Homo sapiens: one gene and its partners. The protein of the gene in region 3 purifies or fractionates together with the protein of the main gene of each other region. This does not show direct contact. Each region holds a gene or a part of one and is shown on either strand. Other genes may lie near its edges. The genes, in order: GLYR1, PRDM10, PRDM5 and CCDC77.

Region 1 (7,027 bases), on a different chromosome or scaffold from region 3:
ACCAGAAAACACAAAAATTAGCCAGTTGTGGTAGCACACGTCTGTAATCCCAGCTACTTAGGAGGCTGCGGCAGGAACTGCTTGAACCCGGGAGGTGGAGGTTGTAGTGAGTGCAGATCGTGCTACTGCACTCCAGCATGGGCGACAGAGCAAGACTTGGTCTTTAAAAAAAAAAAAAGAAAATCATACATGTAGATACTGTATATTAAAGATGTCAGCCTATGACTAATCTTGAACGCTGTCACATGTGTTTCAGCCTTCACATAGACAGGTGACCCGGGGTGAAGCCGTGAAGCTAAGAGAAAGAGAAAAGGAGAAAGGACGGGGAGAAGATGGCAGGGGGAGGGAGACAGACAGAGAAAAAGCACACACACACAAGCATAGAGTATAAAGGTGAGAACAAGCCGGCACGGTAGCTCACGCCTATAATCCTAGCACTTTGGGAGGCCGAGGTCAAGAGATTGAGACCACCCTGGCCAACACGGTGAAACCCTGTCTCTACTAAAAATACAAAATTAGCTAGGTGCGGTGGCATGCGCCTGTAATCCCAGCTACTCCGGAGGCTGAGGCAGGATAATCGCTTGAACCCAGGAGGCGGAGGTTGCAGTGAGCCAAGATCGTGCCACTGCATTCCAGCCTGGCGACAGAGCGAGACTCCATCTCAAAAAATAAATAAATAAATAAATAAATAAATAAATAAATAAATAAAGATAAGAATAAAAATACAGGTGAGAACAAAGATGGGGCCAGAAGGTGTGGGTTTGCTTCTCCATTTGGATTTGGTGAATACTTAGTAAACAATTTCTATGGGTGCCTTTTTAAAAAAAATCCATCCAAAGGGGCTGAAGATTACTGAGGTGTTACAGGCCAAGTTCTTCAGAAATAAAGGCACCAGAAAAAAACACACACAAATCAGGTGCCAGGTGAAACGAAAAAGGGATGCTTCCAAGCTGCTATGCTTCTAATTATTAACCACATATTCTTCTAGAGCAGCTACTTTCAGTACTGACTCAGACACCTCACATCCAGCGAGACCGGTCCACCTTAGATGTGGCTTGGTGGAAAAGGACCACTGGTCTCTCAGTTTCCTCATCTGTGAAAAAATAAGAACCAGAAAGATGACCCTGTGCACTTCCTGAAAGGGCTGCTGTGAGGACTGGAGGGGAAGACTGCTATGGAAACTCGCAGGTAGGCACTTGCAGCTTCTCCACTGTTTGTCCACAATCTGTTGAACCGGTTGGTTTCTGGTGGCTTCTAAGCACCTGTAATTTAAATGAACACTCCCTCCATTCCATCATCATCCACAGCCACTGATGAAACTTTTCTTTTTTTTTTTTTGAGACAGAGTCTCACTCTGTTGCCCAGGCTGGAGTGCAGTGGCGCGATCTCGACTTACGGCAAGCTCTGCCTCTGGGGTTCACGCCATTCTCCTGCCTCAGCCACCCGAGTAGCTGGGACTACAGGTGCCCGCCACCACGCCCAGCTAATTTTTTTGTATTTTTAGGAGAGACGGGGTTTCACCATGTTAGCCAGCATGGTCTTGATCTCCTGACCTCGTGATCCGCCTGACTTGCCCTTTGAAAGTTCTGGGATTACAGATGTGAGCCACCGTGCCTGGCCAAAACTCTTCTTTTTTAAAAGACAGGGTCCTGCTCTGTCACCCAGGCTGGAATACAGTGCCTCAATCACAGTTCACTGTAGCCTTGACCTCCCAGGCTCAAGCGATCCTTCTGCTTCAGTCTCCCAAGTAGCTGAGACTACAGGTACATGCTACTACGCATGAACCCTCTCACCTGTGTTTCAGCCTTCGGATAGACAGGTGACCTGGGCTGAAGCCGTGAAGCTAAGAGAAAGAGAAAAGGAGAAAGGGCGGGGAGAAGATGGCAGGGGGAGGGAGACAGACAGAGAAAAAGCACACACACACACACAAACACACACACAAGCATAGAGTATAAAGGTGAGAACAAGCCGGCATGGTAGCTTTAAATTTTTTATTTTTAAATTTTTTGTAGAGATGGGTCTTGCCATGTTACCCAGGCTGGCCTTGAACTCTTAGGCTTGAGTGATGCTTCTGCCTCTGCCTCTTGAAGTGTTGGGATTACGGGTGTGAGCCATCACGCCTGGCCCCGATGAAACTTTTAAACCGTGAGCTCTGTCTCTACTCTGATGGGGGGGTCACCACTAATCAGACCTGTCAGAGAGGGACCCTCGTGCACTTGACACATAATCTTTGGTTGTAGTCACCAAGTGAAGCTGGCAGGGTTTTGCTGAAATTATATCCCCTTCGTATTTCCATGAAAATACAAAAATTACGTGGGCAGTTTTGTCTTGGCCATCTCGCTCAGGGAGCCGAATCCGTATAAAGAAGTCCTCCTCTCACCAGGACACCTGATTAGGAAGGTCTGGCCCTCTCCTAACAGTGGGATGTCAACACAATTTGTTAGATATTTTGGCAGAGATGTGGAGAGAGAAAAATCAGGTTTCTAAAAGATTGTAATCACTGATTATCTTGTCATAAGGAGCCGTTCTTTCTGCTCTTTAATAAAAGACCTTGCAAATATTAAAAAAGTATAACTACACTTTTTTTTGCCTAAGTAGTGTGTCAATTTTGAAACTGAACATCTTTGACCAAATCCTGTATTTCTCAGGAACGGAGGACACTCCACTGGGTCAGACCCTATCCACCTGGGCCAGGGTCCAGTAACCAATGGTGCCCCCACCCAGGATGTGCCTGGACCACATGCCCCCTCCCTGATGTCAAGTGTTAAAGGCGAGGTGCAGTCCAGCTTCTACAGGAGCCACTTATGGCTTTGTCTTCACAAGTTAGTTCTCATCCCTAAAAAATCCCCTTGCAATACCTGTTTACACCACCTCTTAAACGCCCCTTTTATGCAGTGCTCCTCACCCTGGTCCTAACACAGTCATACCACAATCCACTTGCAGTGCCCATCGCCAAACTCCTCTAGGCCATTCGCTGTTTCCTACCTCCTGATCCCGTGATTCCTTCAGTCTTTGCTTTTCCACATTGAAGAGTCCTGCTCTTTTGTCTGACTCAGTTCCCTTTTCTGGATCTTGGCCAATTCTAAGAGATCCCTTTGAAAGCATGATCTGAAGTCCATAGAGTATTCCTGATGAGGCGCATACAGTTTTACATAAAGGTGGAATGATGCATGGTTTTGTACTCAAAGCCTTTTTGGTAAAAAGAGCAAACCTGGCTGACATCCTTTAGGAACTTCCAACTCTCATATTCCTTTCTTTTCAAACAAACACACACACACACACTCTCTCTCTCTCCCATAGGGAGAGTCTCCATCTCTCTCAGTTTTCCATACTTAAAGGCATCCTGGACCAATGTGTGCTAATACCTGCTGTATGGCAAGCCACACTCTACACAAGAGATACTACTTTTCCTTCCTAACTATGAGGTAGGGGGTATCATCCCCTTATGTAGAGGACACAGAGGCTCAGAAAGGTGAAATAGCTTGCCCAAATCAGGGAGCAAGGTGGAACCGGTACCTGAATGCACATTAGGCTGGTAACCAATCCAGAGCTCTTTCCCCAAAGTAATCTGCTGCCACCAGCCAATCTGGAGATCTTACCTTCATAGAAAAACACAAAATAAAATCTGCCCCAGCACTGATCACTAAGGAAGTGTTCCTTCTTTAGAGAAGTACTGTACATCTTTACCCTTTATTTCCTTTCTCTAAGTTAACTGCCTACCCACAAAAAGATAACACATTAGTACCACAGTGACTTCATTTTTATAGTTTAAAATGTAGAACTCTAGCAAAGGAGTTTAAAAAGTTAAAAATATTGCATTTAGCAGTTGCTTTGTATCCCACTTGTTTACAACCCTCCAAAGAACCTTCGTCAGTTAGAAATTATATCATCACCACCACCATCCAGGCTATTTTTGTCTTGAGCAAGCACATCACCACTGGCTTCACCTGTTTGCCTGGTTAAGCTCTGAAATTAACTCAACTCCAATTTTCTGTGTCCTATTTCTAGCACTTGTTATAAACAAGGATCACAGTTTATTAATCTAGTCTTTTAGCATTAAAAAAAAAATCGGGGCTCGGCGCTGTGGCTCATGCCCATAATGCCAGTACTTCGGGAGGCCGAGGTGGGAGGATCACTTGAGCCCAGGAGTTTGCGACCAGCCTGGGAAACATGGCGAGAACTTGTCTCTACAAAAAAAAAAAAAAAAAAAAAAAAAAAAAGTAAAAAATTTAGCAGGGCATGGTGGCACACAACTGTGGTCCCAGCTACTCGGACTGCTGAGGTGGGAGGATTACCTGAGCCTGGGAAGTCAAGGATGCAGTAAGCCATGTCCGTGATACTGCACTCCAACCCTTTCTCAAAAAAAAATCAAGAAACCAAACAAGAACAACAACAACAACAACAACAACAAAAAACATAAGGAAACAATGGCTTTCAGGCTCCTTATGAGACTGAGTTCCCATTTTTGTTTCAGACTTGTGTAATTATTCATTTAGCTAATGAAGTTTGGGCCAACCATATTGCCTCTGTTATTCCTAAGCACAAGTTACCTCAGGCAGGGAGCCTCTTCCTTTCCATAACACCCAGCTTAATGCCAATTGTTCATGGTATCCCCACTGTCTGAAATGCCCCTATAGTCCCCATCCATCCAGATTCTATGTATCTTCCAGAGCTGGATTCAAATCCCATCTCTGGCTGAGTGCGATGGCTCACGCCTGTAATCCCAGCACTTTGGGAGGCCGAGGCGGGCAGATCACGAGGTCAGGAGATCAAGACCATCTTGGCTAACATGGTGAAACCCTGCCTCTACTGAAAAATACAACAAAAATTAGCTGGGCATGGTGGTGTGCGCCTGTAGTCCCAGCTACTCGGGAGGCTGAGGCAGGAGAATGGCATGAACCCGGGAGGTGGAGCTTGTAGTGAGCCAAGATCGCGCCACTGCACTCCAGCCTGGGCGACAGAGCGAGACTCCGTTTCAAAAAAAAAAAAACAACAACAAAAAAAAACAAACAGAAAAACAAATCCCATCTCTTCAGTCAGTCTTCTTGGTTCTCATGGCTCTCCACTGAGCTCTCCCTCTTCTAGAATTCTTTTTCTTTTTAAGACAGGGTCTAGCTCTGTCACCCAGACTGGAGTGCAATATTGTGATCATGGCTCACTGCAGTTTTGACCTCCTGGGCTCAAGCAATCCTCCTGCCTTAGCCTTCTGCATACCTGGGACTACACTTGTGTGCCACCATGCCTGGCTATTGAAAAAAAAAATTTATTTTTTTAAGTAGAGACAAGGTCTTGCTATGTTGTCCAGGCTGGTCTCCGGCTCCTGGGCTCAAGCAATCCTCCTGTCTTGGCCTCCCAAAGTGCTGGGATTACAGGCATGAGCCACTGTGCCCAGCCTAGAATTAACAATTATCTGCCATCATTCATTCTGCACATAATCTTTATTTATTTTTTGAGACAGAGTCTCGCTCTGTCACCCAGACTGGAGTGCAGTGGCGCGATCTCAGCTCACTGCAACCTCCGCATCCCAGGTTCAACCAATTCTACTGCCTCAGCTTCCTGAGTAGCTGGGATTATAGGTGTGCACCACCACACCCGACTAATTTTTGTATTTTTAGTAGAGACAGGGTTTCACCATGTTGGCCAGGCTGTTCTCAAATTCCTGGCGTTAAGCAATCTGCCTGCCCCGGCCTCCCAAAGTGCTGGGGTTACAGGCATGAGCCACCATGCCCGACCATCATTGTGCACATCATCTTATCTGAAATGTTTACAACTTGTCACTTGACTGAGCATCTGGAAGGTGGGAACTATAATACTTGCTTTCTTATAAATTCCCTCAGTGTCAAGCAATTCAGAAAGTGGACACATAACACTGATGTTATGCATGAGGACAATCTTTCCTGTTTTTCTTTTTCTTTTCTGAGACATAGTCTCAGTCTGTCACCCATGCTGGAGTGCAGGGTCTCGAACAATCTCTGCCTCCTGGGTTCAGGCAATTCTCGAGCCTCAGCCTCCCAAGTAGCTGGGATTACAGGTAGACGCCAACACTCCTGGCTAATTTTTGTATTTTTTGTAGAGACGGGGTTTTGCCATGTTGGCCAGGATGGTCTCGAACTCATGACCTCCAGTGATCCACCCACCTTGGCCTCCCAAAGTACTGGGATTGCAGGCCTGAGGCACCATGCCCGGCCAAATCTTCTTTTTAAATCCATGGAGTTCTAAGAACATTCCCTCTTCCAGAAGCTCTGGCTCCACAGCTCCAGGCCAGCGATCTCCTTGAAATACTGCCACCACAGGCTGCTAAGCTGGCTTGTGATAGAGAAATGGGGCTGGGTCTATCTGTAAACATGAAACCAGGAAGAGCATCTGACATATAAACTCCTGGATGAGTGAAGAATACTGTTTATAATATATCGCTTTCTAAGTAGAAATACTTTAACCGTCAGAATTAGATTTACCAGAGAAGCCACAGACATTTTTTTCAAATCTAAGGCTGTATTTTCCTATAAGAATAATAAATAGAAATACAACTACTTAAAGAAATCAAACCGGCTGGGCATGGTGGCTCTTGCCTGTAATCCCAGCACTTTGGGAGGCTGAGGGGGTTGGGGGGGGGAGGGGCAGATGACTTGAGGTCAGGAGTTTGAGACCAGCCTGGCCAACATGGTGAAACCCCGTCTCTACTAAAAAATATAAAACAATTAGCCGGGTGTGGTGGTGTGCGCCTGTAGTCCCAGCTACTCGGGAGGCTCAGGCACCAGAATCACTTGTACCCGAGAGGTGGAGGTTGCAGTGAGCTGAGATCATGCCACTGCACTCCAGCCTGGGTGACAGAGTGAAACTCCATCTCAAAAAAAAAAAAAAAAAAAAATCAAACCATCTAGCTAGACCCAGGTAAGCCACTTGACATAGTGATAAAAAGCTAAACAAATCACTAGCAACTCAAGTTAATACAGGTTCTTCACGTTCTTCCCGTCACTGTAACATGTTATATGGTCAGAGTCTCAGATTAATGGTCCTGGTTTCCCCA
Region 2 (7,027 bases), on a different chromosome or scaffold from region 3:
GGTTTATAAAAGTGCCAGCAAGCGCAAAGCCCACATTCTGAAGAACCACCCAGGAGCAGAGCTCCCACCGAGCATTCGGAAGCTCCGACCCGCTGGTCCTGGAGAGCCAGACCCCATGCTGAGCACACACACCCAGCTGACGGGCACCATCGCCACCCCTCCCGTCTGCTGTCCCCACTGCTCCAAGCAGTACAGCAGCAAGGTAGGGGGAGTTTCTGACTAAAGCTAAGGTCAAAACCGCCATGCGAGGAATCTCTTAAGGAAAGGTGGCTTCTCATCCACATGGCCTGGATGGCTCCTTCTGAGTTGACGGGGGACTGAAAGAGATGTTGTCCTAGTCACTGTAAACAGAGAGCACAGCAGAGAATGGAAAGAGGATACTGTGGACCTCCCCAGAATTAGTGCCGTACAGCAGCCCGAGCAGCTGGCTGTTTTCCTTTTCCCTTGGCCTGCGGAGGGCCTCACGTTTGAATGTTCTGTGCTTGCAGTTGGTGAGTTCAGGCTTTTGGAAGCACCACATAGAAAGTTACGTGGTGGCTTTACAAAGGAGGTCATTTTGGCTGGGGGGATTGTGATTGATTGCTGCAGGTACTATTTGGGGGGGGTATTGAGACCTTGCTGATGGTGTGAGGTCAGGTGAGGTTTTACTTCTTCCCCACCCTCTTCCCTGCTTTCATAGCATTATGTTACCCCAGGAAGTACAGGCATAGAGTCAGTGTTGCTCTGATTTTTCTTTTTTTAAGACATAAAAGACTTTAGGAATCTTTGGAGGATTTACATATGAGAAAAACGGAAAATCACAAATTCTAATAATTATTCTTGTTTTTTGCCTTGCTTTTTCAGACCAAGATGGTCCAGCACATTCGAAAGAAGCATCCAGAGTTCGCCCAGCTCTCCAACACCATACACACACCACTGACGACAGCTGTGATCAGTGCCACCCCAGCGGTTTTGACTACAGACAGCGCCACTGGAGAGACTGTGGTGACGACGGACCTGCTCACCCAAGCAATGACAGAACTGTCCCAGACCTTAACGACAGACTACCGAACGCCACAAGGGGATTACCAGAGAATTCAGTACATCCCTGTGTCGCAGTCGGCGTCTGGCCTCCAGCAGCCTCAGCACATACAGCTGCAAGTGGTTCAAGTGGCCTCGGTACTGCGTGCCTTGGTTTCCCTTTGCCTTATGAATGCCGTGTTGCCACTAGCACCTCATTCTCAGAGCTGGGGCTGGGATCTATGTAATGTCCTTCTGCGTGGAAGTTCTGAGCCTTGGGCATTTTACAACTGCCCCTTCCCCTTTCAGGCTGATGAGGCCTCTGGCCTTAGCAATGTAAGAGATTTCTGTCTATAGTAGTCAGGAAATTTTAGGTTCCAGCATATACAAGCCTCCTGTGCTGTGGCAGGACAGTAGCCACAGCACCTGTTTCTGACCCTCTTCTGATCCTTATCTTTAACCATCCTGGTTGGCTGCTTGGTAATGAGCCAGTTTGATAAATCACGACCTGCGTATCAAATGTCTTATATCAAAGAGAGGTCATAAAGCATAATATTGATGGCTGGGCGCAGTGGCTCATGCCTGTAATCCCAGCACTTTTGGGAGGCTGAGGCGGGCAGATCACTTGAGGTCAGGAGTTCGAGACCAGCCTGGCCAACATGGCAAAATCTCGTCTCTACTAAAAATACAAAAATTAGCTGGGCATGGTGGCGGATGCCTGTAATCCCAGCTACTCAGGAAGCTGGGGCAGGAGAATTGCTTGAACCTGGGAGGCGGAGGTTGCAGTGAGCTGAGATCACACCATTGCACTCCAGCCTGGGCGACAGAACAGGACTCAAAAAAAAAAATTGAGTCAATCTCTGCATATCAGTCAGTGCCTTTGTAGTATAGAGGTATAACTGTGTTCCTTCTACCAGATAATGAATAACTCATTCTTATTGACTAAGGAACTAAATGAAAGTGATTCTCCCAGAACTATTGTTTCATTTAATTACACTGAGGAGAAGTGTCCCCAAGGCACAAATGAACAAACTTGTTGCTTTGAAATCATTTGGTCTCTGAAAATTTAAAACTAACATGGGGACAGGAAATTGGAAGTTGCCACTGTCGTTGACTATTCTTTGTCTTGTTTTTCTTATGGAGGGTTTTTAACTTCAGGCTTTGGAGGAAGCTATATGAGTCCCTGAAGTTGCCTGTAAATTATGATGTATAGGTACATTGTTCTAGAAAAAGGGCCTGTACTTTAGCTACTTTTTCAAAGATGTTTATGATATATAAAAGGTTAAGAACCACTGTCATAGTGGGTTAATGGTGACAAACTAAAAACGAATTTCTTTGATCTCTTTTAATTGATAAAGGGTAGATCATTAAATGTAACTGAAATTTTTGATTCCTGACAACTTCTTTTTCAGCTTATTGTCAGGAACTATCTTCCCTCTCTCTCCTTCTCTTCCAGAATCTAATAGTGGCTTATGTGTGAGAAGCATATTTCTCTAAACGCTCTTTTTTTATCCTGTTGTATGGCGTGTTCTAGGTGTGGGCTATCTGCGAGTGCAGCATTGGAGCTGAAATCCCTTCCATTCTTCTATTTCTGTTGGCATATATTGGGATATTGTTTTTGGTTTTTTTTTTTTTTTTTTTTTGGAGACAGGGTCTCACTATTGTCACCCAGGCTGGAGTGCAGTGGCACAATCATGGCTCACTGCAACCTCCGCCTCCCAGGCTCAGATATTCCTCCCACCTCAGCCTCATCAGTAGCTCGGATTACAGGCATGCCACCATGCCTGGCTATTTTTTTTTTTTGAGATGGAGTCTCGCTCTGTTGCCCGGGCTAGAGTCCAGTGGCACGAATTCAGCTCACTGCAACCTCTGCCTCCCAGGTTCAAGTGATTCTTCTGCCTTAGCCTCCTGAGTAGCTGGGATTACAGGTGCTCGCCACCACACCCAGCTAATTTTTGTATTTTTAGTGGAGACAGGGTTTCACCACATTGGTCAGGCTTGTCTTGAACTCCTGACCTCAAGTGATCCCCCCGCCTCAGCCTCCCAAAGTGCTGGGATTACAGGGGTGAGCCACTGCACCCTGCTGCCTGACTAATTTTTTTTTTTTTTTCGAGATGGAGTCTCGCTCTGTCGCCCAGGCTGGAGTGCAGTGGTGCAATCCCAGCTCACTGCAAGCTCCGCCTCCCAGGTTCACGCCATTCTCCTGCCTCAGCCTCCCTAGTAGCTGGGACTACAGGTGCCTGCCGCCACACCCAGCTAATTTTTTTGTATTTTCAGTAGAGACGGGGTTTCACCATGTTAGCCAGGACGGTCTCGATCTCCTGACCTCGTGATCCACCCGCCTTGGCCTCCCAAAGTGCTGGGATTACAGGCGTGAGCCACGGCGCCCGGCCATTCACCTGACTAATTTTTGTATTTTTTGTAGAGACAGGGTTTTGCCATGTTGCCCAGGCTGGTCTCGAACTCCTGGGCTCAAGCGATACACCCGCTTTGGCCTCCCAAACTGCTGGGTTTATAGGCATGAGCCACTGCACCCGGCCAGGATATTGTTTTTAACTGAACCTTTTCTCTGGAAGGATTTCCCTTAACTTCAATCAATATATGTCTGGTTTCTGGGCCTGTTTTTTCTCCTTCCAGGCCACTTCCCCTCACCAGTCACAGCAGTCCACTGTGGATGTTGGCCAGCTCCATGATCCTCAGCCCTACCCCCAGCACGCCATCCAGGTGCAGCACATCCAGGTCAGCGAGCCTACCGCCTCGGCCCCGTCCTCCGCCCAGGTACCCTGCTCCACAGACTATTTGGAGGTGTTATCATGGCTTCAGGGATTATCAGAGTTAATGAGAGGGAAGACATTCTCTTCAGACCTAGTCTCCTCAGCTACTGTTATTTTTGGATTTTTATTAAAGGATCTTACCTTTGCCTCCAATTTTTATATTGGCATTGTGGACACATATTAAGCTGTTAGCTGCTTCTGCCCTCATAGAGTCCTGTGGTACGACATCCTAGAAACAACAGTGGTCTTTGCTTTCATTCTAAATGCAATGGCTAAGTGGCTTCTATGATTTGGAACAGTGGCTTTCTGGAGTATTATGGTATATTTTATGTTACTGTGTTTGTATGCTTGAGTCTGGAATTGAGATACATAGATAAGTTCTCAGAGTTCAGAGAGGGAGAGATTAGGTTTAGGAGGGAATCCAGGACATTTTTTAGAAGAAGTGGTCTTTGAGGTCTTGAAGGAGGGGTACAGTTCTGACATAGTCGTTGGGGAAGGCAGTCTGATCTGAAGAAGCTCATGCTGCAATGGAAAATGTACATTTATAGAAAACAGGGTTATTCTGTTTAGATTACTCACAGGAAATGATGTTTGGAAAGGAAGTTGGGAGGGTAGTTTGGAGCAGGATTGCAGTGTGGCAGGCTGGAGAGCGCTGGCCTCATCCTGTTATCAGGAGTGGGCCTCTTCACCCACCTGTGCTGAACTCCACCAGCCAGGTGGGATTTGCCAGTACTGGTGAATGGAAACGATGAACTTTGGGTTTCATTTCATTTTGTGTTCCAGATTAGCTTTGTGACACAGGCAAGTTACTTCACCTCCCATTATTTTTAAACTTATAGAATGTAGGTAATTATATTTTCTTTCATTTATCTTTCCAACAGTTGATTGAAATTAATTTTTTTGCATACTCTGGTAGAGAATCCTTTGAAAGCAAATTAGAATTTCATAGTTATGCTTGCTTTTCATTGAGTTTATTCTTATTTAAAATATTACTTTTAATAATAGCAATGATAGGCCAGGCGTTGTGTCTCATGCCTGTAATCCCAGCACTTTGGGAGGCCGAGGCGGGTGGATCACCTGAGGTCGGGAGTTCGAGACCAGCCTGACCAACCTGGAGAAACCCCTTCTCTACTAAAAATACAAAATTAGCTGGGTGGGTTGGCACATGCCTGTAATCCTAGCTACTCGCGAGGCTGAGGCAGGAGAATCACTTGAACTCAGGAGGCGGAGGTTGCGGTGAGCCGAGATCATGCCGTTGCACTCCAGCCTGGGCAATAAGAGTGAAACTCCATCTCAAAAGAAAAAAAAAATAGCAACGATAGTTTCAGTATTATAATTCATATGAGTCTGGTGTACTTCCTTCAGTTATTTGTGAGTCTTCACTATATTAGAAGCTCGTAATTCCCTACCATTGCTTTCTCTTTCTCCCCAGGTATCTGGGCAGCCGTTGAGTCCCTCAGCCCAGCAGGCTCAGCAGGGGCTCAGCCCCTCCCACATCCAGGGCAGTTCTTCCACACAGGGGCAGGCTCTGCAGCAGCAGCAGCAGCAGCAGCAGAATTCCTCTGTGCAGCACACGTACCTGCCCAGTGCTTGGAATTCCTTCCGTGGCTATTGTAAGTAAGAAGGGACGATGCCGTGTCGGTCAGGGGTGGGGGATCTCCAGCCATGTGTCATAATTTCTTCAGCTTGTGATAGATTTTTAAAGTATCTCTTGGCCATTGTTTACACTCTCTATGAATGTACTTCAATGGGTTTCATGACAAAACTCAAGGTGTAGCATTCCGCTTTCACAGAGCTACCCTGATAGGACATTTTCGAAACGTCAGGTATATTGCTGGAGGAAATGTAGCTATGAAATTAAATAGTAAGATAGTTGGATATAGCTTATGTTGAGTCATCCCTTCCACCAATATTTGTAGAATGCCTGTCTATCAATCGCTGTACTAGACACTGGCTATGCCAAGATTAATATTCTCATTAGTATCGGTAACACCACACAATAATAATGTTAACCAGCTTTCATTAAGCTCTTACTACATTGCCAGGAATGATTCCGAACCATATATATCACAGTCAGTATTCACAACAACCTATAAGATAAGTACAATTGTTATTTGCATTTTACAGATAAGGCAATTTCCACACACTCACTTTTCCAAGAGCTAGTAAACAGAGGATTGGAACCCAGGCAGTTTGGCTTCAGAGTGTCCACTCTAAACCACCCCACTGTGCAGCTGACCATCATCTAGTAAAGGAGGGAGATAGAAGAGTCGTTGATTCCAAAGCCCTGAGATTCGTGCTGTGGAAACAGTAGCAGGCTGGCTGACAGAGGTCGGGGCAGGTAAACCCCTTGGTGGGGAAACAGCTTTGGGGCAGGCCAGGAAGTATGAGACCTTTCTCATGGAAGGTGTGGAAGGAATAGGAGTAGACTTTAACAGACCTCAGTAGTAGAAACTAGGAGGAAGAGGTGCTGAGAAGGGAAAGGGTCGGTATTGATCTTTCTTCTACTGTTGATTTATTTTTGGGGGCCCGTCTTTGTCATGATTGATCCTTGGCTATGTTACATAGATTTGCTATGGAGTCAGGCTCAAACTCTACCGTCTAGTTATTTTTACAATCAATATTCTTTTTTTTTTTTTGAGATGGGGTCTCGCTCTGTCACCCAGGCTGGAGTGCAGTGGCACAATCGCGGCTCACTGCAACCTCCGCCTCCCGGGTTCAAGTGATTCTCCTGCCTCAGCCTCTTGAGTAGCTGGGATTACAGGCACCCGCCACCACGCCCAGCTAATTTTTGTATTTTTAGTAGAGACGGGGTTTCACCATGTTTGCCAGGCTGATCTCGAACTCCGGACCTCAGGTGATCCGCCCACTTCAGCCTCTCAAAGTGCTGGAATTACAGGCATGAGCCACTGTGCCCGGCCACAAACTATACTCTTAAACATTGGACGTCACATTGAGGGCTGGGTCTAGTTTCCAGTCAGGGACTCTCTTACCACTAGAATCTGGTGAATAGACTGACCTCTGTACTCAGTGTAATTCCTGTGAAAGAGAGTGGAGCGGGCCAGGCGTGGTGGCTCATGCCTGCAATCCTAGCACTTTGGGAGGCCGAGGTGGGCGGATCACTTGAGGTCAGGAGTTTGAGACCAGCCTGGCCAACATGGTGAAACCCCATCTCTATTAAAAACACAAAAAAAATTAGCCACGTCTGGTGGCGGATGCCTGTAATCTCAGCTACTCAGGAGGCTGAGGCAGAA
Region 3 (7,027 bases):
TATTCTTTCCTCCAATGCCTGTGCAGCCCATGGAGGAAAGGGGAGAAGCAAGAGACATACTGTGAATGAGAGAATGACATCATGTACCAACCCCAGCAAAACATATGGCATAGTAACCGTTAGCTAAAATACAGCAAGATTTTACACTTTATATGGTCCACAAATTAAAAAATATATATAAAACAAGATTTCCTTTTATGAATTATTTCCTACAAAATCACCATAAATTTCCAGAATTAATAATATTACAATATGCAAGGCCAACTACAAGAAGCCTCAAAGACATTGTGCTTATAGCACAGCCTGAAGACAACATGCCCAGTAATAAGAATGCAAGTCTCCAGAGTTTCGTATGCATCTGGTTTTTTACTTAGTTCAGCAAACTTAAGCTTTAAAACTGACATGAAAGTTCTATTACAATATATTGCAGACATAGATGAAGAAAATTAAGAATAGCATTTTAACTAGAACAGCATTGAAAATCAAAAAACTACGAAGGCAAGTCTATCAAAAAGTTATGCTTGCCTTTTGCAATCATAGGGAAGACCCCAGTATACTGAATTCAGAAAAAAATCCATCTTCCCTAAGTCAGCTGTGTATTCTTCAAAAGGAAAGAAAGAAACCAGAACACTGTAAAAGCCTAGTGAAGGGCACCAAGCTGGAGGTGCATTTCACAAGGCCCTACTTCCACCACACAGAGCTTTCACCATAGGTTGCACTTAATATGCAGCCCAAACCAATGATGCAAAGTCGCAGCTAGCAGTTGTTCACGCTAGCCTCTATAACTGTATTATTATTAAAGTGAATACTTTTTGGACAATGAACAAATACAGGATACAGATGCTGGGTGCAGATTATCATCTTCTCCTGAATATAAGAATAAACAACTGAAGGGAGAAAAGAAATCCACTTTCCCCCACATCCAGAGACACATAGCCACCCATTTCCCAGAAGTCAAGGGCAAAAATAAACACATGAACAAAGAATATGAAGAGAAGAACACACAGGGTTTCATAAATCTCAACCTCCTTTAAGGAGGAAGTCTTTGGAGGTAAAAAGACAAGAAGTAAAAAGTTAACTGAGACAATACAGCCATCTGTTCAACTCACTGCAATAGATTTAATCCCTAAGCCAAAATATATTTACTGACAGTATACCATGTGCTAAGCAGATAAACCCAAAAGACAGTCAAATTTTATATTTGTTTTATTGTTTAGCTAGCTATCAGATGGAATTCAAATAATATTTGTTTTGTTAATCCATACATATTCAATTCCAATGTCAAAATGTGTTAGCAATTTTCTCTAACTTAGGAGAACTGTATTTTCACAAGTTGGATTTTTACTGTAAAAATAATAAGGCAGAAGGACATCACTTAATAATGATAAATTTTAACAATTTATAAAAGAAATGTCACATGCCAAAACATTTAAAATTGTTACTTAAAAATATTAATTCTTAATGCATCTGACCACCCAAACATAACTAGACTTTAACTAAGGCTTACAGTTATAATTAATTCAGGAATGGGAAAAAGAACAAATGCTGCTAAATTCAACCTGAGAAAGAAATAGTGTTCAGTGAAAGAAAAAAATCCACTGCCAGCGCTCCACATCTGTGTGAAACACAATGGAAAAGCCAGCTCTCTCCTCAAGAGCGAGAATTAAAAACAGATCGCTGCAGCCTGGGGAAAGGAAGCCCCTTCGGAAACGACCCTCCAACGACTCCTCACCAGTGTGGACATTTTCCTGGTGTCTTTTCAGGGCATCCTTGCTCTTCAGCCTCTTTCCACAGCTGTCAGCCTTGCACACAAACCTGGCATCCCCCCGGCAAGTCTCCTGGTGCTGCTCAAAACTACAAGACAACCAGCAAAGCGGAACAGGAAGAAATGGTGAAGACATACCTACAAAACTCAAACATCAGCAAGATTTTGTAATACATGCTCCCTAGTAGAGTTTCGGGGTCATTCCATGCATTACCTATGCAGGTAAGAAGAAAAGCATTTAAATTCTGTAGGTATGTGAAACTGAATTACTAAGAAGCATGAAAGTATGCATGCAAAAAATGACCCACAATTATATAACAGCCATTTCATAACTCAGACACAAAACCTCGATGCTGAACTGAAGGAAGAATTGCAAACAGAGCACTGAAAACTTCGCGAAGACTCCTTTAGACTGCTTTTCGCTGTGCACTGAAGAACACTAAAGGGAAATAGGAAAAAGAGAAAGAAAAGAAAACAAAAACTGGAACTCTAAGACAAAAATGAAACTACACTAACTCTGAATAAAGTCATGTTCGTGATCCCTTTTTTCATTGTCTTTTGCCTTTTTAAATTTTTAGCAGTACCTTAACTATAAGCTCTTGCTCAGCAGTGTCTTTTGTATAAATATATAATACTAAATGCAATAAAAGCTAACCAGAATGCAACTTAACATCTATTTATTTAAAAGCATATAGTCCTTGCTTGTTTTTTAAGGAAGTACAATAGAATTTCTAAATATGTAGTATCCTGCTATTATAAAAGTTTTGATATTCTGAACATTTATTAAGTTTTAAGCACAATTTTCATCTCAATTTTTATAAGCAAAAGTTGATGCATATAATAATATTCATACAGTCTTAGTATGAAATGTAGCATATTTCAGAATTTTAGTTCAATGAAACACAAAAATGTAAAAATGTAACATTAAAGCCTATGTTAAAGATTTCTTGCTCATAAGTAAGGTAACATTCTGTTAAAATGAGAAGCTAAGGTTGGAGAAAGAAAGTAAATGGCAGGATGGGAGCACATAAGAGAAGAGATATGTTGATGAGATGGGACAATTTACATTACTTTCATATTGGAAGTAATTGGCTTCAACACAATGAGAGTCTACAGTTGCATCCAATATGTAAATATGCTTTTAAATTACTTAAATTCAATTATCTGATTAAAATTACAAACTTTAATGAGTAAAAAAATAAAACTTTACAAATGCATATACCTACTTTCTCACTTTTAACAATTTCTGATCCTGTAAAATATTTAAATAAAGATAATTTTATGTTGTTAATATAAATTGTTAAAATAAAAAAGGGTACAGAGCTATGTGTGGGATCATCTAATTAATCATATTGTTATAACTGGGACCTATGCATCTTTAAATTATTCCTCCAAAGTTGCTCTCAAATAAACAGTGCTTCCCAAAATGTCCAGGAATTCTTTATACTTTGAACTCCCCATTTCTTAAACTTTTTTTTAAACAGATTCCAGAAGGAATATAAAACGTAGACAACTAAAAGTCTGTTACCTCAAAGGAGTAACTAAAGTAGGCATATCTGAATTTCAGATTAAACCAGTAAGCTTGATACATAATGGCAAATTAATAAATGGACAAAAACTAATTACCATAAACAGTGTTTATGTGTTAAAATCCATAATTTGAATATTTTAATAATCAACATACTATACTAAGAAAAGATGAGTTAATGACAATACCAATGTAAAATGCTTAATCTCTCATTCACACACAAAACATGCGCGTGCGCGCGTGCACACACACACACACAGGTTAAAAACTATGAGTTAAGCTGAATGGAATAAACTGTGTTAGCTTATAATTTTAAAGATATTTCTTTAATATACGCACTGTCTTTGCAAAGCCTGCTTAACTGGGAATTTCTTCCCACAGTTCTTGCACTTAAATTCTTTCTCCTCTGTGGGTTTCTGGTGCAATGTCTGGAGATGCTCAGCAAGAATATCCTCACTGGTAAAACTCGATTCACATTGAGGACAAGCATAGTCCTCTTTACAGCCAAGGCGATCTGCACATTCACAAGGAAACATATTCATGAGACAAAAATTCAGAGCCAAGAAATGCTCAGTTTTGCTCTCATTTTAAATTAATTAATTAATTGTGCTTAATGATACCATATGAATAAATTCTTATTATCACTATAAATATTAATAGTATTTGGCCACAAAAAAATAATAGCAAGTGTTACTAGAGAGAAATACATTATTTTCAAAATCACTTGTATTTCACCAAATTAATACAAAGTCAAATTCCTTATTTAATTCATCCTATAATGTTAACTTTTCAGATCAAAATGTTAAATTAGAAAACAAAAGCTATTCCTGAAATTGGTCATTTTTAGCTCATTTTTACCTTCACAAGGAGAAAAATCCAACTGATGCAAACTATATTGAATTACCAAGGAGAATCTCACATACATGTGAAAAAAGACCAAGGTCATAAAAACAGTGCTGATTAAGCTAGTAGAGTGAATTATGCTACACGGTCCCATATAGACTGGTGCAGGTCTGACCAAATTTCTCAGCGTGCTATTTAAATTACACATTTGTTTCTGATTATAAAATAAAATTAGACTTAGAAAATGCAGAAAATAAAAAACACCAATAATCCCATCAGGAAGAGACAACTGTCATAATATTACTGGCAAGCCTGACTTGCCTTTAGTGCATACATATTTTATGCGCAGTCTAAGAAGAGGTAAATTTGGGATCATACTTTATATACAATTTTATATGTTTTCCCATTTAACATCTTCTCAAGTCAAATGTTGGCATATTTTTAAACTTAAAGTACCACAATTTATTTAACCAAACTCTTCATTGTTAGACATTTGGGTGGCTTGTTTCTTTTGCTGTTTGTTTTTATTTTGTTTCTTTGCTTTTCTAAATAAAACTAAGAATTCTAAAATAAAAATAGCCATGGCACATGGCACATGGCACATGTATACATATGTAACAAACCTGCACATTGTGCACATGTACCCTAAAACTTAAAGTATAATAATAATAAAATAAAATTTTAAAAAAACCAAAATAGCCACAATGCAAGTGCTTGGTTCATGTGTTTAAAAAATTCTGTTTAAGTTTCTGTTGATTCTTTTTACAAAGATAATGAAAACTGGTATTTTAATAACTAAAGCAGAAATCAGGGCAGTAATAGGTAAGTAGATTACTTATTTTTAAATTAAAATAATGGATAAAATAACTTGCCCTGGGGACAACAGGGAAAAAATAAAATACAAAAACAAAGAAAACACAGAATAACACAGAAATAATTCCCATCACCCAAAATATGATATTCCAAATAGCATAATGCATATAAGCCTGTCCTTATCTTCCCCTTAAATAATTCAACTAAAATAAAGAAACAGAAGCATAAGCTGGCAATGGTGACAGAATGTTCACACTTTCTCAGCCAATAACATGCAGTTAGAACAGAAAAAGTACAGGAAAAGCATACTACCACTTTGACTAATGAAACCAGTATCACTTCTGAAGTGGCTTTGCTACACAAAATGGAAAAGTACTGTATAGTAAGTATCAGCCTGCTATGGTCTGAATGTTCGTGAATCCCCAAAATTCATACGTTGAAACTGAAACCGCAATGGAATTGTATTAAGAGGTGGGCCCTTTAGGAGATGATTAGGTTATGAGCACTGTGTCCTCATGTATGGGCTTAATGCCCTTGTAAAAGAAGCCCAAGAGAGCTTGCTTGTCCCTTCTGTCACATGAGGACACAGCTAGAAGGTGCTATCTAATTAGAAACGGGCCCTCACCAGACACCAAATCTGCTGGCACCTTGATAGACTTCCTAGGCTCCAGAAACGTAAGCAATAAATTTCTGCTGCTTACCAAGTATCTAGTCTAAAGTATTTTGTTATAACAGCCTGAAAGGATAAAGACGAGGCCTATTACAAAATGTGAATACCTATAGCATCATTCATATATCCCTTAAATTTCCCTTAGGAGTAAAACACAACATAATAGAAACAAGGCCAATAATAATTGATTATTCCCTGGCAGTTAACAAGCAAGTGGCTGCAGTATTGACTGAGGAAGGTCTGACCTACGGTCACTGAAAGTTTTTGGTAACCACACTAGGGCAACCTAGCAATCCTCCAGGCTTCTGTGATCAGAACAGAAAGAGATGCCAAGAAGCTGCAGGTTCCCAAAAGATCCCAAACAAGAGGAATCAATCCCCTTCGGATCCAGCAGGCTCTCTTGTGTACCTCACCTCCACTCTCACCTTTTCCTATATGCAGATGAGAAAGTAAAGTCTCAGAAAGTCAGCAACTTGCCCAACGTTACAAGACTGATTAGTGGCAGAGCTATGGCAAGACTATAAAAATCCTCACTACTCATTACCCCAATGCGCCAGTGAGAGCAGTGAGAGCCGGGAGCTGCCCTAGCAATGCAGCCCTGCCTGCGGCCTAGGCAGTCCTATAGGGTACATCCATCACCCACTCCCAAAATACTTTTCCTGCTGTAACAAAGATGAGTCCACCACAGGATACCCTCGAGAATAATTTTGACAAAAACTAACTTTATTTGAGAATGCCATATTACAAGGCAACTATAATTCAACCACAGTTTAAACTACACTTTTTTCTACAACTTTTCTTCTCCCAGATCACCAATTAAAGATGCAATACCTTTTCTGCCCGCTGTTGATTGTCTTCTAGAATTTTCAACTTCCCCTTCTTTGATGACTGTCATAATTTGCTGTTCTTCCTCCTCAGCCTCCATGTCACTATCCAGGTAGCCAATCAGAAGCTCCGTGTCTGTTTCTATATCTTCAACTGCCAAATAGAAAATGTTTTCTCCTTCCTGAAACAAATTTTTTTAAATGCTGAACCATTCATTTGTTTCTGATAGTAATTAAGAAATAATTTTAAGATACATTAATGGAGTACTATGTGTGCATGAAAAGTTATTACTTTTTTTTATTTCTAGTTGATCTGGGTGCTGAAAAAGGCAGGTGACAATATTCAGTTACCTGGCAAATAAAATACAAATACATATGACAAAAAGTGACATTTACACATGTCAAATGAAATTATGTTCAATTTTTAAAGTGAATTTTGCATCACTAACTGGCCTTATGCAAGCAACACTTTGTGGTGGCCTATAAATGTAGTTGTCATGCAACAGTGTCATTCACACATGCAGACAGAGAGCAATGAGATATCAATGATTTCGTTATTATTAACACTAACACAAAACTTAAAA
Region 4 (7,027 bases), on a different chromosome or scaffold from region 3:
ATTTCCCTTCTCCTATTTGGTACCTGATTCTCAGTCGGTCATTTTCTGAGTAGAGGCGTAAAACATGTTCCCGTTCCTGGAAGAGGCAGACCTGCATATCACTTAGAGCTTTCTGCAATTCAGCAATCTCTTCCTCCCTCTGCTGCAAATCACATTCAAGTTTATGCTGCAAAAAAACCACAATAAGATAGTTGAAAGACACTGGGTTTCAATGGAGTATCTCTCACTGGATAGGGAGGAGTCTACTCATGTAGAAATATTCCAAAGTAAATAATTTTGCCAATACAGAATTCAAATGACAGCAATAGGCATGTATAGACTGGAGTTTGTTTGTTTTTTTATTTATTGAGACCAAGTCTTGCTCTGTTGCCCAGGCTGTAGTGCAGTGGCACGATCTCAGCTCACTGCAACCTCCACCTTCTAGGTGATTCTTGTGCCTCAGCCTCCCGAGTAGCTGAGATTACAGGTGCATGCCACCATGCCCGGCTAATTTTTGTATTTTTAGTAGAGATGGGGTTTCGCCATGTTGGGCAGGCTAGTCTCAAACTCCTGACCTCAAGTGATCCACCCGCCTCAGTCTCCCAAAGTACTGGGATTATAGGCACGAGCCACCATGCCCAGCCTTGACTGGAGTTTAACAGCTACAGGATGAGTGTGAAGTTTGCATTTAACATCAAAGCTCTCACATCTTCCTTTTACAGACTATAGAATCCAGAATGCTGTACGACTCACCTATTCTATCCACACTTTTTTTTTTTGAGACAGAGTCTCACTCTGTCGCCCAGGCTGGAATGCGGTGGCATGATCTTAGCTCACTGCAACCTCCACCTCCCAGGTTCAAGTGATTCTTCTGTCTCAGCCTCCTGAGTAGCTGGGATTACAGGTGTGCACCACGCCCAGCTAATTTTAGTAGAGACGGGGTTTCACCATTTTGGCCAGGCTGGCTTGAACTCCTGAGCTCAGGCAATCCACCCACCTTGGCCTCCCAAAGTGCTGGGATTACAGGCGTGAGCCACCACACCTAGCCTATCCACACTTTTTTAGTAATGTTTCCTATATCATAAGCATTATTATGACATGCAGGAAAACAAAGATGAAAAGATACGATTCCTGTCTACAGAGCTACGGAATTTCATGGGGAGAGAGGCAAATGATTAAAATAAAATAATTACTTCATGAAAGCATGCATGGTGAAATGGTGTGGGGGAAAGCGTGGCAGGAATAAACATTCTGAGATCTGTTTGGGAAATCAAAGCGCTACCACCCAAGAGCTGACACTTGACAGATGAACAGAAGATGGGTAGAGAGAGAAGCAGACAGTTGGTACTCCAAGAAAAGAGAACTGTAAATAAGAACCATGAGAGAGCCTGATGTTGTCAGAAAGGAAGACAATCTCATCACATGCTACAACACAGACGAAACTTGAGGACATTATGCTAAGTGAAATAAGTCAGTTACAAAAAGAAAAACTACAGTATGATTCCACTCTATTCTAAATAAATCCTGCTCTATTTTTTTTTTTTTTTTGAGACAGAGCCTTGCTCTGTCGTCCAGGCTGGAATGCAGTGGTGTGATCTCAGCTCACTGCAACCTCCACCTCCTTGGCGATTCTTCTGCCTCAGCCTCCTAAGTAGCTGGGACTACAGGTATGTGCCACCACGCCTAGCTAATTTTTGTATTTTTAATAGAGACAGGTTTTGCCATGTTGGTCAGGCTGGTCTCGAACTCCTGACCCCAGGTGATCCGCCGGCCTCGAACTCCTGACCCCAGGTGATCCGCCGGCCTCGGCCTCCCAAAGTGCTGGGATTACAGGCACGAGCCACCATGCCTGACAAATCCTGCTCTATTTCTAATTCATAGAAATAGCAAGTAAAATAGTGGTTACAGGGAGTGTGGGGAGAAATGATCTGTTTAATGGGATGGAGTTTTGGTTTTGTAAAATGAAAACGTTCTAGAGATCAGTCACACAACAATGTGAATATACTTAACACGCCAGGCGTGGCAGATCACTTGAGGCCACGAGTTCAAGACCAGCCTGACCAACATGGCAAAACCCCATCTCTACCAAAAAAACAAAAATCAGCTGAGTGTGGTGGCGCACCCTATAATCCCAGCTACTTGGGAGGCTGAGGCAGGACAATTGCTTAAACCCAGGAAGCGGAGGTTGCAGGGAGCTGAGATGGCACCACTGCACTCTAGCCTGGGTGAAAGAGCCAGACTGCCTCCAAAAAAAAAAAAAAGAAATATATATATATATATATATATATATATATATATATATACACACACACACACACACACACACACACACACACCCCCACACACCCACAGACTCACACACACACACACACATAAACACTTAACACTACTCAACTGAACACTTAAAATTGGGCAAGGTCATTAAAAATAATTTCATAAAGGCTGGGCACAGTGACTCACGCCCGTAATCCCAACACTTTGGGAGGTTAAAGTGGGAGGATGGCTTGAGCCCAGGAGTTCAAGACCATCCTAGACAACAGAGCGAGATTCTGTCTTTACAAAAAATAAAAAATTGGGCAGGGTGCAGTGGCTCACACCTGTAATCTCAGCACCTTGGGAGGCCGAGCCAGATGGGTCATCTGTGGTCAGGCGTTCAAGACCACCCTGGCCAACATGGTGAAATCCAGTCCCTACTAAAAGTACAAAAATTAGCCGGGCATGGTGGTGGGCGCCTATAATCCCAGCTACTCAGGAGGCTGAGGCAGGAGAATTGCTTGAACCTGGGAGGCGGAGGTTGTAGTGAGCCGAGATTGTGCCACTGCACTCCAGCCTGGGTGACAAGAGCAAGACTTCATCTCAAAATAAAATAAAAAATAAAAAATTAGCTGGGCATGGTGATACATGCCTGTAGTCCCAGCTACTTGGGAGGCTGAGGCAGGCGGATTGCTTGAGTCCAGGACGTTGAGGCTGCAGTGAGCTATGATCGCACCACTGCACTCCAGCCTGGGCAACAGGGCAAGACCCTAACTCAAAAAACAAAAAACAAAAAACCCAGAGGTCTATAGATACATACATAATGTGATAAAAATATTTATTACATTTTTATTAACATATTATTATGTTAATAATATCAACATATTATTATGTTAATAATTATGTTAATATTAACATATTATGTTAATAATTATGTTAATAATATCAACATATTATTATGTTAATAATTATGTTAATATTAACATATTATTATGTTAATTATGTTAATAATATCAACATATTATGTTGATTATATTAACATAATATTATGTTGATTATATTAACATAATATTATGTTGATTATATTAACATAATATTATGTTGATTATATTAACATAATATTATGTTGATTATATTAACATAATATTATGTTAATAATTATGTTAATAAATATTAACAACTGATTCAGAGAAAGGGAGAGCATACAAGTCCACAGTGGAACTCAAAAGGTTGGAAACACTTTTTTTGTAGAATCTACAAAAACAATTAGGCTGGGCACGGTGGCTCACACTGTGTCCCAGTAAATGTATTCAGAGATGCTGCATCACTGCCATCTGGCAACCAGCTCCCATCCTGAAGCTATCCAGGAGCCCAAATGGAATGAATTACCCTGTAATTCATTGTATACATACATAATGTGATAAAAATGACAAGTAAACCTCCAAAAAACAAAAGCCTATTAAATTTGGACAAGTACAAATATTTCAGTACTGCTAGAGTGAAAAGTGTGAGGCCAACTGGGGATGTAAGAGGCCAGAGGCAGGTACTGGCAAGGAGGACACCGTCACAGTTTAGACGCAACTCAAGGGTCTGTGTGAGCATCGTGGCCAAAGTGAGGTGGGTGTGGGAATGGATTAAGTAATATTTAGGAAGCAGAATCAACAGGACTTGCCAAATGATTCGGTTTAGGGGGACTGGAAGAACCGTAGGCAATGATGCCATTTGCCAAGACAAAGAATAAAGAAAAAGTTAAGGCATGAGAAACGGAGGAAGGCGAAATGGTGGCAGTACATGTGCGGGTGGGGAAGGGAGGGTAGAGAAAGGAGCCTCAGGAGAAAAGTGAGTCAGGGTTAGTTATTTAACAGTCATCATCCCGTATGCAGAAGTGTAATACAAGGATAAAACAAGGTCATTTATAGTAGAATCTGGAAGAACTCTGAAATTTAAGAGTAAGGAAAGAGAGTTGTTAATGGACACTGAGATGAGCTGATCAGAGAGGTTAGATAGAAATTGTGAAAGAAAAATGACACAGAAATCAAGAAAGGAGGCCAGGCTCACGCCTGTAATCCCAGCACTTCAGGAGGCCAAGGCAAGCGGATCACAAGGTCAGGAGTTTGAGATGAGCTTGGCCAACATGGTGAAAACCCACCTCTACTAAAAATACAAAAATTAGTTAGGTGTGGTGGTGGGCACCTATAATCCCAGCTATTTGGGAGGCTGAGGTAGGAGAATCGTTTGAACCCGGGAGACAGGGGTTGCAGTGAGCCGAGATTGTGCCATTGCACTCCAGCCTGGCAGACAGGGTGAGACTCCGTCTCAAAAAAAAAAAAAAGGAAATCAAGAAAGGAAGAAAATTTTAGAAAAAGAGAGGTCAAAAGTGACAGACACTGCAAAGGGCAAAAAGAGAAAAGTTTGGTAAACAGGTATTTGGAGACCGCAGACGGCACGGTTTTAGTGGCATGGCAAGGACCGAGATGAAACTGCAGTCAAGACATTTCCCAGCTGGGCGCGGTGGCTCACGCCTGTAATCCCAGCACTTTGGAAGGCCGAGGCAGGCAGGTTGCCTGAACTCAGGTGTTTGAGACCAGCCTGGGCAACACAGTGAAACCCTGCCTCTACTAAAATACAAAAAATTAGCCAGGTGTGGTGGCGTGCACCTGTAATCCCAGCTACTCGGGAGGCTGAGGCAGGAGAATTGCTTGAACCCAGGAGGCAGAGCTTGCAGTGAGCTGAGGTTGCGTCACTGCACTCCAGCCTGGGCGACAGAGCGAGACTCCGTCTCAAAAAAAAAAAAAAAAAAATCCCATTCAGTGAATGGGAAAGTCAAAAGATTCTGGAAGTGTGACTGGGAAAAGAAAGAGCCATTTATATAAAAAGAGTAGCTAGAGAGGCCGGGCGCAGTGGCTCATGCCTGAAATCCCAGCACTTTAGGAGGCCGAGGCGGGTGGATCACGAGGTCAGGCGATCGAGACCATCCTGGCTAACACGGTGAAACCCTGTCTCTACTAAAAAAATACAAAAAAATTAGCTGGGCATGGTGGCAGGCACCAGTAGTCCCAGCTACTCGGGAGGCTGAGGCAGGAGAATGGCGTGAACCCGGGAGGCGGAGCTTGCAGTGAGCTGAGATCGCGCCACTGCACTCCAGCCTGGGCGACAGAGTAAGACGCTGTCTCAAAAAAACAAAAAAACAGGCCGGGCACGGTTGCTCACTCCTGTAATCCCAGCACTTTGGGAGGCCGAGGTGGGCAGATCACGAGGTCAGGAGATTGAGACCATCCTGGCTAACACGGTGAAACCCCGTCTCTACTAAAAGTACAAAAAATTAGCCAGGCATGGTTGCGGGCGCCTGCAGTCCCAGCTACTCGGGAGGCTGAGGCAGGAGAATGGCATGAACCCGGGAGGCGGAGCTTGTGGTGAGCTGAGATCGCGCCACTGCACTCCAGCCTGGGCGACAGAGCGAGACTCCGTCTCAAAAAAAAAAAGAAAAGCAACCAGAGAAAAAACAAAGGAAGGAAGAAGGAGATAGATACGGATGGAGTAACGGTGTGCAGATGGCAGAAAAGATGTTGAGAGAGGAGGGCTAAGAAGGGGTTGCAGGCTAGAGGTGAGGGTATGGCACAGATGTGGAAGGAGAGGAAAGCCAGTAAGGATAGGTGAGAAGACTGCTGTATAATGGTTGAGGGTACAGCTGAATTTGTTTACCATCGATTCATTCTGTACTGATTTGTGACCTTTCTACAACAGTGTTCTCAATCAGGAGTGACTCTGCACATCCATACACCCATTCCAGAAACATCTGGCAATGTCTGGAGAGATTCTTGATTGTCACAGCTGGGGGTGTTGTGTTACTGGCATCCAGCGGGTAGAGGCCAGGGATCCTGCTAAACATCCCATCACGCACAGGACAACCCCTCACAACAAAGAATCATCCAGGCCAAAATGTCAATAATGCCGAGGTTAAGAAATCCTGCTATAGGAGAACACGTGGCAGAGAACTGGATGATGCCACAGCTCAGTTTTTGCTATGCAGGTGGAGCAGAAGAATAATTGAGCAAGGGGTCATTTGCAGGCACTGCAGTTACTACTCAAGTAAAGCATCATGGGGTTTAGGTTTGAAGGACTTGATATCAGAGCTATATACAGCACTCAGAAAACTGAAAAGTCAGGAAGCTATGGAGGTAACAAAGAAGTTAAGGACTACTCAGGTACAAGGAGATGAAAGAACTAGGTATAAGAGATATGGAGATGTCAGAATTTAAGATTTGAGAGGAAGGGCAGTTTTGGGGGTTATGATCCAAGGAGGGCCTGAAGGGGCAATAGCTGGGCTGGGGAATAAAAAAGGAGTATTTTTATAAAACATCTGCTTCTGATATAAACTGGCACTTGTAGGGCATCTCTAATTTATGAAGACTCCATCAGAGTTCTAAAGCAGCAGCATCGTTTCTTTACCTGTCCTTCACAAGCTTCTTTGTAGAGTTCCAGTTTCTTCAGCAAGTCCTCATTTTCTGCCTCACACTCAGCCATCTTCTTTTGATAATATTCCAGGAGCTCCTTAGAAGGATGGAGTTTGGCCAGACGATCTTCGGGGGAAGGCAAGGGGGTTGACTCCAGTGAATCTGCCATTCCCCTCCTCTTGGTGGGACCACTGACGGCAACACCACGTTTGGAGACAACTGTTCGCCTACGTGAAATTAGAAATGATATATTCATCACACTCTGCGAAAGTTTATGAGTTATAACTTCCTAAATAAAAGGGGGTTTTGTGTTCCCAAAGTGCTTATAATTAAGGTGCTCA

What was found.
Region 1: the proteins of PRDM5 (region 3) and GLYR1 purify together in Homo sapiens (affinity purification with mass spectrometry; 2 studies listed by BioGRID and IntAct, with this or other methods). This does not show direct contact.
Region 2: the proteins of PRDM5 (region 3) and PRDM10 purify together in Homo sapiens (affinity purification with mass spectrometry; 2 studies listed by BioGRID and IntAct, with this or other methods). This does not show direct contact.
Region 4: the proteins of PRDM5 (region 3) and CCDC77 purify together in Homo sapiens (affinity purification with mass spectrometry; 2 studies listed by BioGRID and IntAct, with this or other methods). This does not show direct contact.

What each region holds. Positions count from the first base shown.
Region 1 is NC_000016.10:4,837,267-4,844,293, forward strand, and holds part of GLYR1 (cytokine-like nuclear factor N-PAC), read right to left. Parts: intron 6,337-7,027; exon of another isoform or gene 6,138-6,336; intron 4,125-6,137; exon of another isoform or gene 2,986-4,124; intron 2,414-2,985; exon of another isoform or gene 1,977-2,413; intron 1-1,976. UniProt on the Homo sapiens protein: Cytokine-like nuclear factor with chromatin gene reader activity involved in chromatin modification and regulation of gene expression. Acts as a nucleosome-destabilizing factor that is recruited to genes during transcriptional activation.
Region 2 is NC_000011.10:129,908,835-129,915,861, reverse strand, and holds part of PRDM10 (PR domain zinc finger protein 10), read left to right. Parts: intron 1-1; coding exon 2-202; intron 203-843; coding exon 844-1,158; intron 1,159-3,636; coding exon 3,637-3,777; intron 3,778-5,205; coding exon 5,206-5,386; intron 5,387-7,027.
Region 3 is NC_000004.12:120,814,721-120,821,747, forward strand, and holds part of PRDM5 (PR domain zinc finger protein 5), read right to left. Parts: intron 6,626-7,027; coding exon 6,451-6,625; intron 3,808-6,450; coding exon 3,633-3,807; intron 2,205-3,632; coding exon 2,112-2,204; intron 2,100-2,111; exon of another isoform or gene 1,904-2,099; intron 1,855-1,903; coding exon 1,733-1,854; intron 1-1,732. UniProt on the Homo sapiens protein: Sequence-specific DNA-binding transcription factor. Represses transcription at least in part by recruitment of the histone methyltransferase EHMT2/G9A and histone deacetylases such as HDAC1.
Region 4 is NC_000012.12:411,633-418,659, reverse strand, and holds part of CCDC77 (coiled-coil domain-containing protein 77), read right to left. Parts: intron 6,914-7,027; coding exon 6,682-6,913; intron 167-6,681; coding exon 24-166; intron 1-23.